Linked DNA regions of Homo sapiens. The protein of the gene in region 1 interacts with the protein of each later gene in a biochemical or structural test. Each region holds a gene or a part of one and is shown on either strand. Other genes may lie near its edges.

Region 1 (7,517 bases):
TAAGTAATAATAAACAACTGTTAAGGCTGATTCAGATTGGTTCTATCTGATTGAGTTGTGGAATAATCAAAAAAGTTCTTCTATAATTTTACTGAGAATAAAAAATTGCTGTCAAATAAAATATTAGGCACATAGCAGCTTCTCCCTTTGTCTTTTACATTTTGACATAACTAATAATCCTTACACATTTGGTGATTTCAGTGGCGTCTTTTTTTTTTTGAGACGGAGTCTCGCTCTGTCACCCAGGCTGGAGTGCAGTGGCGTGATCTCGGCTCACTGCAACCTCTGCCTCCCAGGTTCAAGTGATTCTCCTGCCTCAGCCTGCCGAGTAGCTGGGACTACAGGTGCATGCCACCATGCCTGGCAAATTTTTGTATTTTTAGTAGAGATGGGGTTTCACCATGTTGGCCAGGCTGGTTTCGAACTCCTCACCCCAGGTGATCCACCTGCCTCGGCCTCCCAAAGTGCTGGGATTACAGATGTGAGCCACCACACCCAGCCTATTTTCATATGTAGGATTTCAGATATTTCTATCAGTTGTATGTCTGATATTAATTCTGGATAAACTCAAAACAGCCTTTGTTATGTTGGTGCATGTTTCATGTATATCAGACCCAGCCCACTACACATCTTTTAACTCTAGGTAAAGGGCTCCTCTAGAATGGCTGGTTAAGCCAAGATGGTCAATCTAGGAAGAGGAACATAAGAAGGTGACTCACAGGAAGATTTTCTGGTGTACCTGGAATCACACTACATCAACCATCACTTGTGCTCAGGAGACCTGAGGCAAGGAGCTGGACTGGCCACTCCAGAGTCAGAGCCTAGGAAGTCCAGAGCAGGACTCAAGAATGGATGGTGCAAATAGTGCCATCAGAAACAGCAGATTCTATCATGTAGCCACACAGATGTGAACACAATCATTAAGAGGGTGATAAAACTATCAGCACAACTGGACATTAAGTTGGGCCCTCTGGACTCCAAAGTTATAATGGAAAATTTAAAGAAAGTGATGGAAAAAATCATAGGCTCCCCACACTTGAACAAGATTCACAATGAAGGTCACAAAAGACGCAGGCAAGCTGATTTCTTCAGGGGAGTGAGGGAGGAACAAAATGGCTCATGGGATTTTTAAAAATCAGAAATAGAAAACTATCCTACAGAAAACGAAACGCAAATTTTTAGAGGAAAAAAAGCAATATCAGAGAATTTTGGTGTCAAATCTTTAAAAAAAGAAAAACAGACTGATTTCAACGTACCCAAAGAGTTCTCTAGCTGCTGCCAAAATAGTGGATGTTTTTCCAGTTCCAGGTGGTCCGTAAAACAAGAGATTAGGAAGCTGTAGAAATTAAATTTTATTTTTAATAAATGGTATTCTGGCACAAATAGATGAAAAGGAAGATCGAAAAAAATGTCTGTGGAATAGTGCAATGACTTCTCTAATAGGGCACGTAATTTCTAAGTATAAAGTTTTCTTAATATAACTGATATCATAGTACTGACAGATTTAAATCCTGCTTTTTCATATACTACCACTTTTTTCCCCAAGTGTCTTTTTAATCTCTTAAGCTGAACCAATATTTATGCTTGCTCTATAGCTAATCCACTTAGGTGAAATTTTCAAAGCTGGAATGAGAAACCTTTTATTTCTAAAGGGAATCTCAGTTTCCTATCCCACCTCTATGCTCAAGATTAGGTAAGATTTTATATTACACAAAATGTCAGCTGCTTCAAAGGGGAAGCAGACCAAAAGAGTAATGGGATTTGGCCAAAACTGAGGAAAAAGGACTAAAAAAGACATAATTAGGGCTTTGGATGAGCAGAAGTACCAAGAACAGAAATATTAACAAAAAATCCAAAACTAGATATATATTAAGTACTAGGCACTGCTCCACATCATGATTATGCACTCTGTAAGGATGCTTGCATGTATCAGGGAGAATTCATTAGAAGAGGAAAGGATAAAATTAAATCACTAGCTACCTTCTTTTATACCTTGTATCTAGCTAGTTTGGCTCCTATCAAGCAGTCGACTGATCCGTGGTGAAAATTAATAAGTCAACTAAATTCTAATGAGCTCTGTTATGATACTGTGCAATCTTCAGTATGTCCTGTCACATAAGGAAATCAGTGTACACAGGAAACTAGGCATTAGAGTTTGTTTCCACTCTTGCCTAACCCTCCCTCTTCCTGTCCATTCATTCTTCACCTAAATCAGATACCACTCTGCTTGCTACTTAAAACTATTCCACTTAGAAAAACAAAAACAAACCAAAAAACCCTCAGCTTTTTACCATGGCCTAAAGGACTTCCATGATCTGCCTACCACCTCCTTCACCTTCCAGGCTCTAGCTTACAATGGCTTCTAACAGCTTGGCACTTTCTGGCCCGAACATATGTTGCTCCCATGACCTGGAGTCTGATCCTCTTCTTTCTGCCTGGCCAACTCCTAATGCATTACAAATCAGAAACCATTCAGTCTAAAGTAGGTCTCCTCTCCTATTCTCTCATTAGTGTTTGTTGCATTTTGCATTGGTTTATTGTTATTTCACTGTGGGGCTTAATTGTAAAATGCCTGTCTACTTCATTAAAAGACCAAGAACCTTATTTGTTCTATTCACATCTGTATTCTAGCATCTACTACAGTAGTCAATGTTGGCCAAATGAATGAATAAACCAATACATAGACAAATATGTTAATTAGAAGACTATTACTGTTACATTCATAACATATAGCTTACAGAACAAACTATGAGATTCATAACTTAAAAACCTCCCAGGCTTCTTAGTAATTAAGGTCTACAACTATTATTTTGATCTGTGCATCCCTTAACAATGTAACGATTCATCCAGGTTAACTATCAGATACAATAATTTAAATTCTTTGAAACAGGGTAAAATTATTAAACCTTAATTATACACTAGTCTAATATATGTAGTACATTCAAGAACTGTATGTGGAATACCAGTTCTTAAAATCAATTTCTGAAAAAATTATCTTCTTATAATTCTTTAAAACCTTTCAAAATAAATTGAATGAATTGTTTTCCTTTACTCTTTTGAATTAAAAAAACTATTTCACCTCTTTACAAAACTTAGTCTGAAAAGGTGCACAAAATATTAAACTGAAGTTCTTACTTCAGCCTCATAAATTACGTGGCATAAAGTCAAGAACTAGATCTTAGGCTGGGCATGATGGCTCATGCCTGTAATCCCAGCATTTTAGGTGGCCAAAGCGGGCAGGTCACTTGACATGGCTAAACACCATCTCTACTAAAAATACAAAAATGAGCTGTGTGTGGTGGTGCATGCCTGTAGTCCCAGCTACTTGGGAGGCTGAGGTGGGAGGATCACTTGAGCCTGGGAGGCGGAGGTTGCAGTGAGCTGGTATCACGCCACTGCACTCCAGCCTGCGTGACAGAGCAAGACTCTGTCTCAATTACAAAAAAAAACAAAAAAACAAAAGAACTGGATCTTAATCTCACTACATTTGCTGAAGATACTAGTAATTAAATTAGATATTGTCCTGCAATCTGTGTAATTACTATGCAACTGCAATTAAAATGGTATATACTGTTACCAAGATATGCAAGCAGAATATACCAAAAAATAAAATGCTATACTATTATAAAATTAAAAGGTATAAGAGTATTTGTGTTATTTATTTTTTATTACTTATTTATTTATTTATTTTTGAGACCAGAGTCTCACTCTGTCACCCAGGCTGGAGTACAGTGGCACAATCTTGGCTCACTGCAACCCCTCCGCCTCCCAGGTTCAAATGATTCTCCCGCTTTAGCCTCCTGAGTAGCTGGGACTACAGGTGTGTGCCACCACGCCTGGCTACTTTTTCTAATTTTTGGTAGAGATGGGGTTTCACCATGTTGGCCAGGCTGGTCTTGAACTCCTGACCTCAAGTGATCTTCCCATCTCAGCCTCCCGAAACGCTAGGATTACAGGCGTGAGCCACTGTGGCCGGCCAAAAAGGTATAAGAGTATGCGAGTCAAATCAAAACACATACTGGTAAAGAAAAAGATTCTAAATAGTTTTATAAATTTAACTTCTTTCAAAATGTGTACTGTAGTAATATAATTTCAGCAAGGGAATGATGGCAGCAAAACCCAAAAGAACTTCTAATTAAAAGCAGCCAGATTGAGAGGAAGGAAGCAAATCTTGAAACTAAAGCAAAAACCACATCCCACTTCAGCACTTTACTGAGCTGTTAAAGCACTTTGGGCATTCATCATAACACAACTTTAAGTTGCTAATTTTTCACATGGGTTTATCTTATCTCAGAATAATTTACAATGCAAGTTATCCATGGATACTTTATCCCCCAGATCACAGCAGAAGAGAGAGCTATAAGCAGAATTCAAAGCTCGATTTTTTTTTTGTATTATAGGTCAATCCAAATCCTAAAGTTAGTAAGCAATTATACTTTAGAGGAATCTCTGGCTCTTCTTTATAGCACATATTACTACCTATAATTATTTATTGGTTTACTTGTTTATTCTATCTTTCCTTACCAATAAAAACCCATGAAAAAAGGGGCATAGTTTGTCTTGTTCTATGTTTTATGTCTTGTTCTATGTCTATGTTTCATAGTTTGTCTTAATTACTATGACTTTTACTTGAATACTAGGTAACACTGCTATGTAAGATTAAATAGGAGATGCTCAATAAATATTTGAACTAATTATCATTGTACAAATAGTTATCAAGGACCTACTGTACACAGAGCAAGATATTTAACGAGGGCTAGAAGTTATAAAGGAAGAAAGAGGGTGAATAAATTAAGTCTTAAATATCCCAATGACATTAAACACCATTTGCAACTCACATCTGCTCCTTCTAAAGATTTTTTCAGCACTGCAACCACTTCTTCCTGGAAAGCAACTTCATCCACACATTTTGGGCGACTTGCGGGGTGAGAAGGAGGAAAGAGGTTATTTAGTATATTATAGTAGCCACAGAAAACTCTCAAGTGTTCCTTCTACTAAAATACCAATGACCATTCTTAAACATCAGCAATGAAATGAGAAACTTTTTCATAATCGGAAATAGGTGGAAACCCCACTTGTTTTTACCGTAACCAAACACATTCTGAAAGAGTGAAATAATGTTTTACTTCCTTTCTGCATTGCTCGAATCTGTTATACCCACAAAAATTAAAGAAAAAGGATTTTATTTTATATGCTACAAACACTAATTAGAAATTAAAGTGGGGGATTAAGACCATCCTGGCTAACACAGTGAAACCCCGTCTCTACTAAAAACACAAAAAATTAGCCAGGCGTGGTGGTGAGCGCCTGTAGTCCCAGCTACTTGGGAGGCTGAGGCAGGAGAACGGCACGAACCTGGGAGGCAGAGCTTGCAGTGAGCTGAGATCGCACCACTGCACTCCAGCCTGGGTGACAGAGGGAGACTCTGTCTCAAAAAAAAAAAAAAAAAAAAAGAAATTAAAGTGGGGCTGGGTGCGATGGCTCACACTAATCCCAACACTTAGGGAGGCTGAAGCAGGTGGATCACCTGAGGTCAGGAGTTCAAGACCAGCCTGACCAACACGGAGAAACACTGTCTCTACTAAAAATATAAAATTAGCCGGGCATGGTGGTGCATGCCTGTAATGCCAGCTACTCGGGAGGCTGAGGAAGGAGAAGCGCTTGAACCCTGGAGGCAGAGGTTGTGGTGAGCCGAGATCGTATCATTGCACTCCAACCTGGGTCACAAGAGCGAAACTTTATCTCAAAAAAAAAAAAAAAAAAAAAATTAAAGTGAACACCTGCTTAGAAAGCATTATTATTGGCCGGATGCGGTGGCTCACGCCTGTAATCCCAGCACTTTGGGAGGCAGATCACCTGAGATCAGGAGTTTGAGACCAGCCTGGTCAACATGGTGAAACCCCGTCTGTATTAAAAATACAAAAAAAATTAGGTGGGCGTGGTGGCACATGCCTGTAGTCCCATTTGAACCCAGGAGGCAGAAGTTGCAGTGAGCCAAGATCGCACCACTGCACTTCAGCCTGGGCGACAGAGCAAGACTCTGTCTCAAAAGAAAAAAAAAAAGCATTGTTCCACTTTGACAAAATAAGATCATGAATCTTAAGATGAAAAGGGAAAACCATTTAGTAACCTTAGTATAGGTAACTATTTTGGTTAATGTAGTTACATATATACTTAGTATGTGTTAACTGGTTAATGCCAATTTTTTCCATCATCTAACTGCATAAAAAAATGAAGACCTATTCAATTCATTGAGGGCTAACAAAAACAACAAGCTGAACCAATATGAAGTATCATATATAATTTTCATCTTACAACAGTGATTTTTAAGAGAAGCTAGAACAAAGTTACACTTCCAACTCTAAGCTTAGGCTTTGTGCTTAGTTAACTAATCAAAAGTTCTTTGATCCATACTTTTCGATAAATCAGGTTAACACTAGGTAGGAATTATGATTTTTTTTTTTAATGTCTTCTCTTGGGAATCCAGTATATGTTATAAAGCAGGGACTCATATTCAAATACCTGCAGAGATTAAGCAGATAACAAGAGTGAGGAAGGCAGAGTGTGATGCAAGATATAGTAGGGACCATGGCAAATTGAGGAACACACGACCTTTCCAAAAGGAGAAGCAGTACACAAGTCCATATAACTCCTGTCATGTGAGAACCTGCCCCCAGTGTTGCCTGATCTCCTGAGAAGCTGAAAATCCAGACCCTCCTCCACATAATTAAAAAAATCTAGATTTTCATGAGGTTTATTGGTGCCAAACAAAACATATAAGGGGCTGGGCGCAGTGACTCACGCCTGTAATCCCAGCACTTTGGGAGGCCAAGGCAGGCAGATCACCTGAGATCAGGAGTTGAAGACCAGCCTGGTCAACACGATGAAACCTTGTCTCTATTAAAAATACAAAAATTAGCTGAGTGTGGTGGGGCATGTCTGTAATCCCAGCTACTCGGGAGGCTGAGGCAGGAGAATCACTTGAACCTGGGAGGCAGAGGTTGCAGTGAGCTGACATTGCGCCACTGCACTCCAGCCTGGGTGACAAAGTGAGAATCTGTCCCAAAAAAACAAACAAACAAAAAGGCAAGCAAAAAACAAAAACACAAAAAACATATGAGGGCCTTACTCGGCCTATAAGTAATCTGTAAACATTGGTAATTACCGAGGCTACATTCAACCAATAGTTACAATTACTTGTGGTAATATCACTTAGATGACTGACAATTTTATTTATTTATTTGAGACAGAGTCTCGTTCTGTCACCCAGGCTGGAATGCAGTGGTGTGATCTCAGCTCACTGCAATTTCTGCCTCCCAGGTTCAAGTGATTCTCGTGCCTCAGCCTCCCAAGTAGCTGGGATTACAGGTGCCCGCCAACATGCCTGGCTAATTTTTTTTTTTTTTTTTTCCCAGTAAAGAGGGGGTTTCGACATGTTGGCCAGGCTGGTCTGGAACTCCTGGCCTCAAGTGATCCTCCCACCTTGGCCTCCCAAATTGCTGGGATTACATACAGGA
Region 2 (8,039 bases), on another chromosome or scaffold:
CTGCCTGTAGGAGTGGAGCAATGAAACAGTTCAGACCACAATTTATTTAAACTGACCTCACGGCTCTTCAAACAGCTGTTCCTTAAGTCTCATGTGTGTTTAATTCAATCTTATGCATATTTTCAATAATTATACCAACCAATTAATTATATATGCTGACTTCTTAAAAATGGCATCTCTCAGGTTTTATTCACGTTTTGTGCAAACAATTAAATCTCAGTGAAATTCAAATTGTCTACATGGCTTCTTTATTTCTTTTATTTTTAATTTTCTTTCTATTTATTTACGTGGTTCAAATTTCGAAAGGGTAAAAAGTCCCCCTCTTATCCTGCCTCTCAGACACATATTTCCCATCTCTGGAGGCAACAAATGTTATCAGTTGGTTCCTTCTGTATCTTTCCAGAGAAATTTTATATTTTGGCAATTGTTTCATATCAGAGTATAAAGTTTTCTCATTTTTATAAAGGTTGCACAGTATTCCATTGTGTGAATACACGTACTTTATTTCTTTATTGATAACTTTTAATTGGAATTTTTGTTTTCAATGCAGCTCCCAGGGCAAGAGCTGTCTATGGATGGGCTTCAGAAGATAAGTGAATAGGCCAGGCACAGTGGTTCATGCCTGTAATCCCGGCACTTTAAGAGGCTGAGGCAGGTGGATCAACTTGAGGCCAGGAGTTCAAGACCAGCCTGGCCAACATGGTGAAACTTCATCTCTACTAAAAATAAAAAAATAAAATAGCTGGACATGGTGGCACACACCTGTATTCCCAGCTACCAGGCAGGCTGAGGCACAAGAATCGCTTAAACCTGGTAGGCAGAGGTTGCAGTGAGCCAAGACTGCACACTGCACTCCAGCCTGGGCAAAACAGCAAGACTCTCAAAAAAAAAAAAAAAAGAAGAAGAAGAAGAAGATGATAAGTGAACAGGCCAGGCACAGTGGCTCATGCCTGTAATCTCAATGCTTTGGGAGGCCAGGGTGGAAGGATCGCTTGTACCCCGGAATTAGAGATGGCAGTGAGCTATCATCACACCACTGCACTCCAGCCTGGGCAACAGAGCAAGACCTTGCCTTTAAAAAAAAAAAAAAAAAAAAAAGAAGAAGAAGATAGGTCAATCCCTTAAAATGGTGTGTATATGCCCATATGCATTTCTCTGGGCAGAAAATTTGCATATCATTCACTGTATTTATCAAAGGAAACTGTAACTGAAACAAAGATTGAGAACTACTGTCCTTCATACCCAACGACACAGTCTGAGGGAAAAAAAAAAAAAAGAACTACTGTCTTATAACTTTGCACAAGTGTTCAATAAACATTTGTTGAATCAATTTTAGTCTAGGGTTTTGCTAATTGTTGCACTAGAGACTGGAGGGCTAAATTAAATATCAGTATAATACAAAATTCTTATCTACCTCATAGGATGTTTACCCACTAACAACAAAACTGACCAATTTGACCTATTTCTTTTCTGAGAAGAGGTCTATTTTTTATCTGCACCATGAACAGGAGTACTAAAGAAAGAAAAGAACCAAAAGTAAAAGCACCTGAATGATCAAAAGTTGACCACACAAGCTATGTTCACCATAAATGACAGAGGAATCTACCATGCCTCTTAAAATCTATGTAACTTTCCATAGAGTCCTTTCTGAGAAAATAGATCACTGGTAGCTGTGTAGTTGCCTAACATGCCAGGCACCAGAACCAGAACGGAAGCTTTACCTATACATCTTGCTTAATCCCCAAAACAATCACTATGGCAGCTATTATTTTCCCCTCTTTTACAGATAAGGAAACAGAGGCTTAAAGAGATTAAACTTAAGCTATTTACTTGCCCAAGACCACGTAACTATTAAACTAGACTATACTAACATAGTAATATAACTATAAATTAATATATAAACCATTAAACTAAAATATTACCACGTTCTTCATCTTCAAGACTCCAAGTCTCAAGCTTCCAAAATACCACAGTGCTTTGGCCTCCAAAATGTAATGATGATCATTATAGGGAAGTAGTATAACATGGTGGTCAGAAACACCAAGATTCTAATTCTAGTTCAACCACCTACTAGTTATATGATACACTGTTTAAATTCCAAAAAGGTGCTTGCACCATCTGTAAAACTGCATCGATGTGGGTTGAAATGAAAAAAAAAAAAAAAAAAAAAAACCATGGAAAACCAACAGTTCACATATTGACCTAAAGAAGATGCTTGGTACAAGGTAGCTACTATCATTACTGTTGCCCTTTTTTGAGAAGAAACACAAAGGCCTGCAACGTTTCCCAGTGTGGCATAAAATTTTCACCGCCCCCCCCCAGAATGTTGTCACTGTGACACGTTGACCAATGATTGAAAAAAATTATATCGGATTGTTAAGTATCTTCTAGCTTAATGAACATTTTAAATGGTCCTTTAAAAATATTTCAAACACAGAGCCATATCCATTGCCATACCATCAGGAATGTCTGCTTTGCTGGCTGCATAATCATTTCACTTTCAATTTGTTTGAACATTTTATCCAGAATTATGCAGTGAGGCTTGGGTTTTTTTCAGATTTTAAACATCAGGTGGTAAGAGGATGACAGCTGTCAAATGTCTTGCATCTGTTTCTATTCGCTGTACTTCTTTTTCCTAGTAAGCCATGTTATCCTTTTGACTCCTATGAACTCATCTAAACAAAATAAAATATCCTCTCCATGCCCTCGGTCTCAACACCGCTCAGGTGATCGTTAATGACGAGCGGAGATGAGACGAGCTGAGCTGTTAATGATAAAAGTTTAAGGCCCTACACAACATATTCCCTAAGAAAGAAAAGTTTGTTACATTCTTCTCCCTCGTGACCCAAAGCTTGAAATCCACGCTTTAGGCAGTACTCAAACTGAGGTTCGGGCAACGCCGAACAAGAAAATAACTTTACCAATGCGTCCCAAAACCACCATCCTTCCTCTCTTCCTTTCTCCCTTCCCCCAAGAGTGGGGGGCGGGGGGAAAGTGCAAGTACACGTAGCAACAAAATCCCTGCGCGCTGGCTGCCGCCCAGAGCCAGAGCCCGCGATGCAATGAAAGTTTTGCGTCCAGTGCCCGGTGTGCGGCCCCTTCTCTGCCTTTGCTAGCCTCCGGAACCACCCACCGCCATCCTCCCCCACCCTGCATACCAGGAGTGCCCGGTCCACACCAGGCCTGCAAAGCCCCCCCAGACCCCGAGCCGCACGGCCTCCCCCAGCGGCTCACCATCGCAGCCCCAGGATGAAGGCGCTGGCTGGCTGGCGGGTGGGCCGGTTGAGGAATCTGTTATCGAGGCTCAGGATCCATTCGCGCCAACAACTTCTCCCGCGAAGTGCAAGAAGGCGAAGACAGTGGCGCGCGGTGATGACGTCAGGAGGCGCGAGCTTTGCTTCCGTCCCGCCCAGAGGCGGGAGGTGCGACGCCTGCCCAGGTGCTGCCCCGAGGGCAGGCGGGCCGCTGACATCGAGAGGAACCACGGTGCTTTGGTGTGAGCTCGGTTTTTGGCGGGGGCGCTAAAGTAGGGGGATCCGATATTGGTTTCCTTGGCAGGCGGGGTACCCAAGTACCTCCCGGTTACACGTCTGGACAATGCACTTCCCTATAGTAACTTTGAAAAGTTTTTACTACCAACTTTAGTAAGATAAATGTTTTAGCTGTGCGTTTTACATATTATGTATAAATATCTATTCTGTAATAAGGTTTCATCAAGAGGCCGGACGCGGTGGCTCACCCCTCTAATCCCAGCACTTTGGGAGGCCGAGGCGGGTGGGTCACCTGAGGTCAGGAGTTCGAGACCACCTGACCAATGTGGTGAAACCCCGTCTCTACTAAAAATACAAAAATTAGCCAGGGGGTGGTGACGTGTGCCTGTAGTCCCAGCTACTCGGGAGACTGAGACAGGAGAATTGCTTGAACCCAGGAGGCAGTGGTGCAGTGAGCCGAGATCGAGCTACTGCCCTTTAGCCTGGGCGACAGAGCGAAACTCCGCCTCAAAAAAAAGAAAAGATACCGAAAGCTTTGGGGTAAACCAGTTGTATATGAATAGATTAGCAATTGAATCACGGAATACAATGAAACATTTGCGTACGATTTCAAGAGAAAGATTAGACCATAAAGAGTTCAATGGAGAAAGCAGTATCTCCAGCTTTGGCTCTAGCTACACTTTTGAAATTCTCACCCATCCACCCCCTGTTGGGTCTTGCGCTTTATGACACCAACATTTCTATGGCGAAAGATAGAACAGCCTGGAATACAACAGAGGCTGAGCATTGACAGCTTGTATTTATTAAACGCCTATTGTTGTACGTGCAGCTCTGGACTAGCCTAGCTCATTTTATCCCCATGATGACACTGACTACTCTTATCCCGAATTTACAGACAGACTGTTACTTATTAACAGGGCCTCACTGCACTGTTCCCTCTGAAGCCAGGATGCTAGGTCTCCAGCCCCACCACCTGCTATTTATGTGACCAAGGGCAAGTTACTGTGCCTCGGTTTTGTCTTAGCAGACATATCACACAAATTTTTGCCCATAATTTTAGAGGACCTACACCAATTTATAATGTTCATTGTGTTATAAATCAATAAATGAGTAAATAAGACATAAAAAGTTGTACGTGTCTTTTATATTACATTCCTCTTAACTTTTGCTTTTTTTTTTTTTTGGCATTTGAAGCCTTCCTTGAGTTTAAATGAGACTTAAGTCAGGAGACTGTAACTTCTTTGTGAGATTGTTTTCTTTAGGAATATTTATTTACATGAAAATACTCTATCTCAGAAATATACCAGATCTAAAATGACTGCATATGCTTTGAAACTCCTCCCTTGAACCTGGACTGGCCTATGACTGATTTGATCAAAGAATACAATGGAAGTGATACTATGCCAACTCCAGACCTAAGCTTTAAGAAGACTGGCAGCTCCTGTCTTGCTCTCTTGGAGCACCATGTAAAGCCAGGGAGGTGGTCATCTGAGACCAGCCTTATAGCCATCTCCACCAGGCACCATGCATGTAAATGAAGCCATCTCAGATCCCATCCAGCAACTGATGGAATTTCACTAGCTTTGTTGACCCCATTCAACACCTGGGAGAGCAGAAAAATCACTCAGTCAAGGCCTGTCCAAATTTCCTGACCCACAGTAGCGTGAACATAATTAAATGATTGCTCTGTTAAGGTAATAAGTATTGGAGTGGTTTCTTATAAAGGAATAGATATCCAGAATGGAAATATTTTTGAAGACCCAAAATAGGACTGAGCATGGTGGCACATGCCTATAATCCCAGCACTTTGAGAGGCCTTGTCTCAGGAAAAAAAAACAAAAACAAAAAAAAAGTGAAACCAATCAGAAAAGATTTCCCTGCTGATCCATGCCTTTTTGTTAGCAGAATAATGGCATGGAAAGAAATTCACTCCTTGAAAACAGTATGGATATAAGCTTTTGCCTATCACAGCAAGTTTACATTTATGGATGCCTGCTGCATTAGCACATGCCGGCACTGTTATTCCATCCTTCCCATCCTTAATTCCTTTATGGGCTAGCTCATCAGCCATAGTTAGTATCTATCTGGGGCAAATAACACCAAAACAGTGATGTTTCAGCAATCTTGTAGACTTGGTCTAGTGTCAGATTTTCATGAGTGAAAATATTGGCAAATTCATCAACACATTTCTCCACTGCTTTGTGATCAGCAGATGCTTTATTGCCACAGATTTTTTAAAAATGTAACACCCTGTCTTTTCTTAAATTTATGCAACCAGCCAGTTGAATATGCACAATTCCCTTCAATTTTTAGTTCATTGCAATAGATCTTTGTTTCATGATCAGCATACCATCACGTGGCATGTGTTCACTATGATGCTTATGAATTTATGCTTTCAATACATGATTGAGATTTTCTTTTTTAGCTTTACGTAGTTTTTTTTGGGGGGGGGGTTGTTTTGTTTTTTGTTTTTGAGACGGAGTCTTGCTCTGTCACCCAGGCTGGAGTGCAGTGGCGCCATCTCGGCTCACTGCAACCTCCGCCTCCCAGGTTCAAGCGATTCTTCTGCCTCAGCCTCCTGAGTAGCTGAGATTACAGTTGTGCACCACCACATTTGGCTATTTTTTGTATTCTTAGTAGAGACGGGGTTTCACCATCTTGGTGAGGCTGGTCTCGAACTCCTGACCTCGTGATCTACCCATCTCGGCCTCCCAAAGTGCTGGGAGGGTTTTTTTGGTTTTGTTTTTTTACTTTTCATTAACTTCTGTTCATCACTTTCAGCATAAACCTTCAACAGTTTTTCCTTCTGTTTCTTCAAATCATATATGGTGGTCATTCCAATCCCATACTCTTTTGTAAGATTTTCACACTTATACTGCTGTCCAACTTCTCTAAGGTTGACTTTCTGTGCCACAGATAAACATAAATGCTTCCTCTTTTTCTTATCACTGTTACCCAAAGGGGTATCTGCAGGCCTTTTCGACATTTTCAGCAATATCTGTATACCACAAAGCAGAGAATAATCAAAAAACCGCAGAAGGCCAGGCACAGTGGCTCATGCCTGTAATCCCAACACTTTGGGAGGACAAGGAAGGAGTATTGCTTGAGACCAGGAGTTCGAGGCCAGGAGTTCAAGACCAGCCTGGGCGACAGAGCAAGATGCTGTCCCAAAAACAAAACAAAACAAAAACCACTGTAAACAATCTGAATGTTAACTGTAAAGAAAATGGATAAATTGAAATATATTCATACAACAATAAAAATCAATGAAATACAGATCATACATCATACAACACTACAGATCAGTCTTGTATACTTTTTTTTTTTTTTTTTTTTGAGATGGAGGCTTGCTCTGTCACCCAGGCTGGGATACATTGGCGAAATCTCAGCTCACTGCAACCTCTGCCTGCCAGGTTCAAGCAATTCTCCTGCTTCAGCCTTCCAAGTAGCTGGGATTACAGGCATCCACCACCATGCCTGGCTAATTTTTGTACTTTTAGTAAAGACAGGGTTTCATCATGTTGGTCAAGCTGGTCTCTAACTCCTGACCTCAAATGATCCACCCACCTCGGCCTCCCAAAGTGGTAGGATTACAGGTGTGAGCCACTGCACCTGGCCCAGTCTTATATACTGATATGGTTTGGCTCTGTGTCCCCACCCAAAACTCATCTTCTAGCTCCCATAATTCCCATTGTTGTGGGAGGGACCCAGTGGGATAGGAGATAATTGAATCATGATGGTGCATCTTTCCTATGCTGTTCTCATGATAGTGAATGGGTCTCATGAGATCTGATGGTTTTAAAAACGGGAGTTTCTCTGCACAAGCTCTCTCTTTGCCTGCTGCCATCCACATAAGATGTGACTTGCTCCTCCTTGCCTTACACTATGATTATGAGGCCTCCCCAGCCATGTGGAACCGTAAGTCCAATAAATGTCTTTATTTTGTAAATTGCCCAGTCTTGGGTATGTCTTTATCAGCAGCGTGAAAATGGACTAATACAGTAAATTAATACCAGCAGAGTGGGGCATTGCTAAAAAGATACTCGAAAATGTGGAAGCAACTTGGGAACTGGGTAACAGGCAGAGGTTGGAACAGTTTGGAGGGCTCAGAAGAAGATAGGAAAATGTAGGAAAATTTGGAACTTCCTAGAGACTTTTTGAATGGCTTTGACAAAAATGCTGATAGTGATATGAACAATAAGGTCCAGGCTGAGGTGGTCTCAGATGGAGATGAGGAACTTGTTGGGAACTGGAGCAAAGATGACTCTTGTTATGTTTTAGCAGAGACTTGCAGCACTTTGCCCCTGCCCTAGAGATCTGTGGAACTTTGAACTTGAGAGAGATGATTTAGGGTATATGGTGGAAGAAATTTCTAAGGAGCAAAGCATTCAAGAGTTGACTTCGGTGCTGTTAAAGGCATTCAGTTTCAAATGGGAAGCAGAGCATAAAAGTTTGGAAAATTTGCAGCCTGAAAATGCAGTGGAAAACAAAATCCTATTTTTGAGGAGAAATTCAAGCCGGCTGCAGGAATGTGCATAAGCAACCAGG

What was found.
Region 2: the proteins of RFC4 (region 1) and RFC1 form a complex in vitro, tested with the Homo sapiens proteins (one study listed by BioGRID).

The regions. Positions count from the first base shown.
Region 1 is NC_000003.12:186,796,279-186,803,795, forward strand, and holds part of RFC4 (replication factor C subunit 4), read right to left. Parts: intron 4,918-7,517; coding exon 4,839-4,917; intron 1,337-4,838; coding exon 1,257-1,336; intron 1-1,256. UniProt on the Homo sapiens protein: Subunit of the replication factor C (RFC) complex which acts during elongation of primed DNA templates by DNA polymerases delta and epsilon, and is necessary for ATP-dependent loading of proliferating cell nuclear antigen (PCNA) onto primed DNA.
Region 2 is NC_000004.12:39,363,005-39,371,043, forward strand, and holds the start of RFC1 (replication factor C subunit 1), read right to left. Parts: upstream 3,359-8,039; 5' UTR 3,238-3,358; coding exon 3,235-3,237; intron 1-3,234. UniProt on the Homo sapiens protein: Subunit of the replication factor C (RFC) complex which acts during elongation of primed DNA templates by DNA polymerases delta and epsilon, and is necessary for ATP-dependent loading of proliferating cell nuclear antigen (PCNA) onto primed DNA.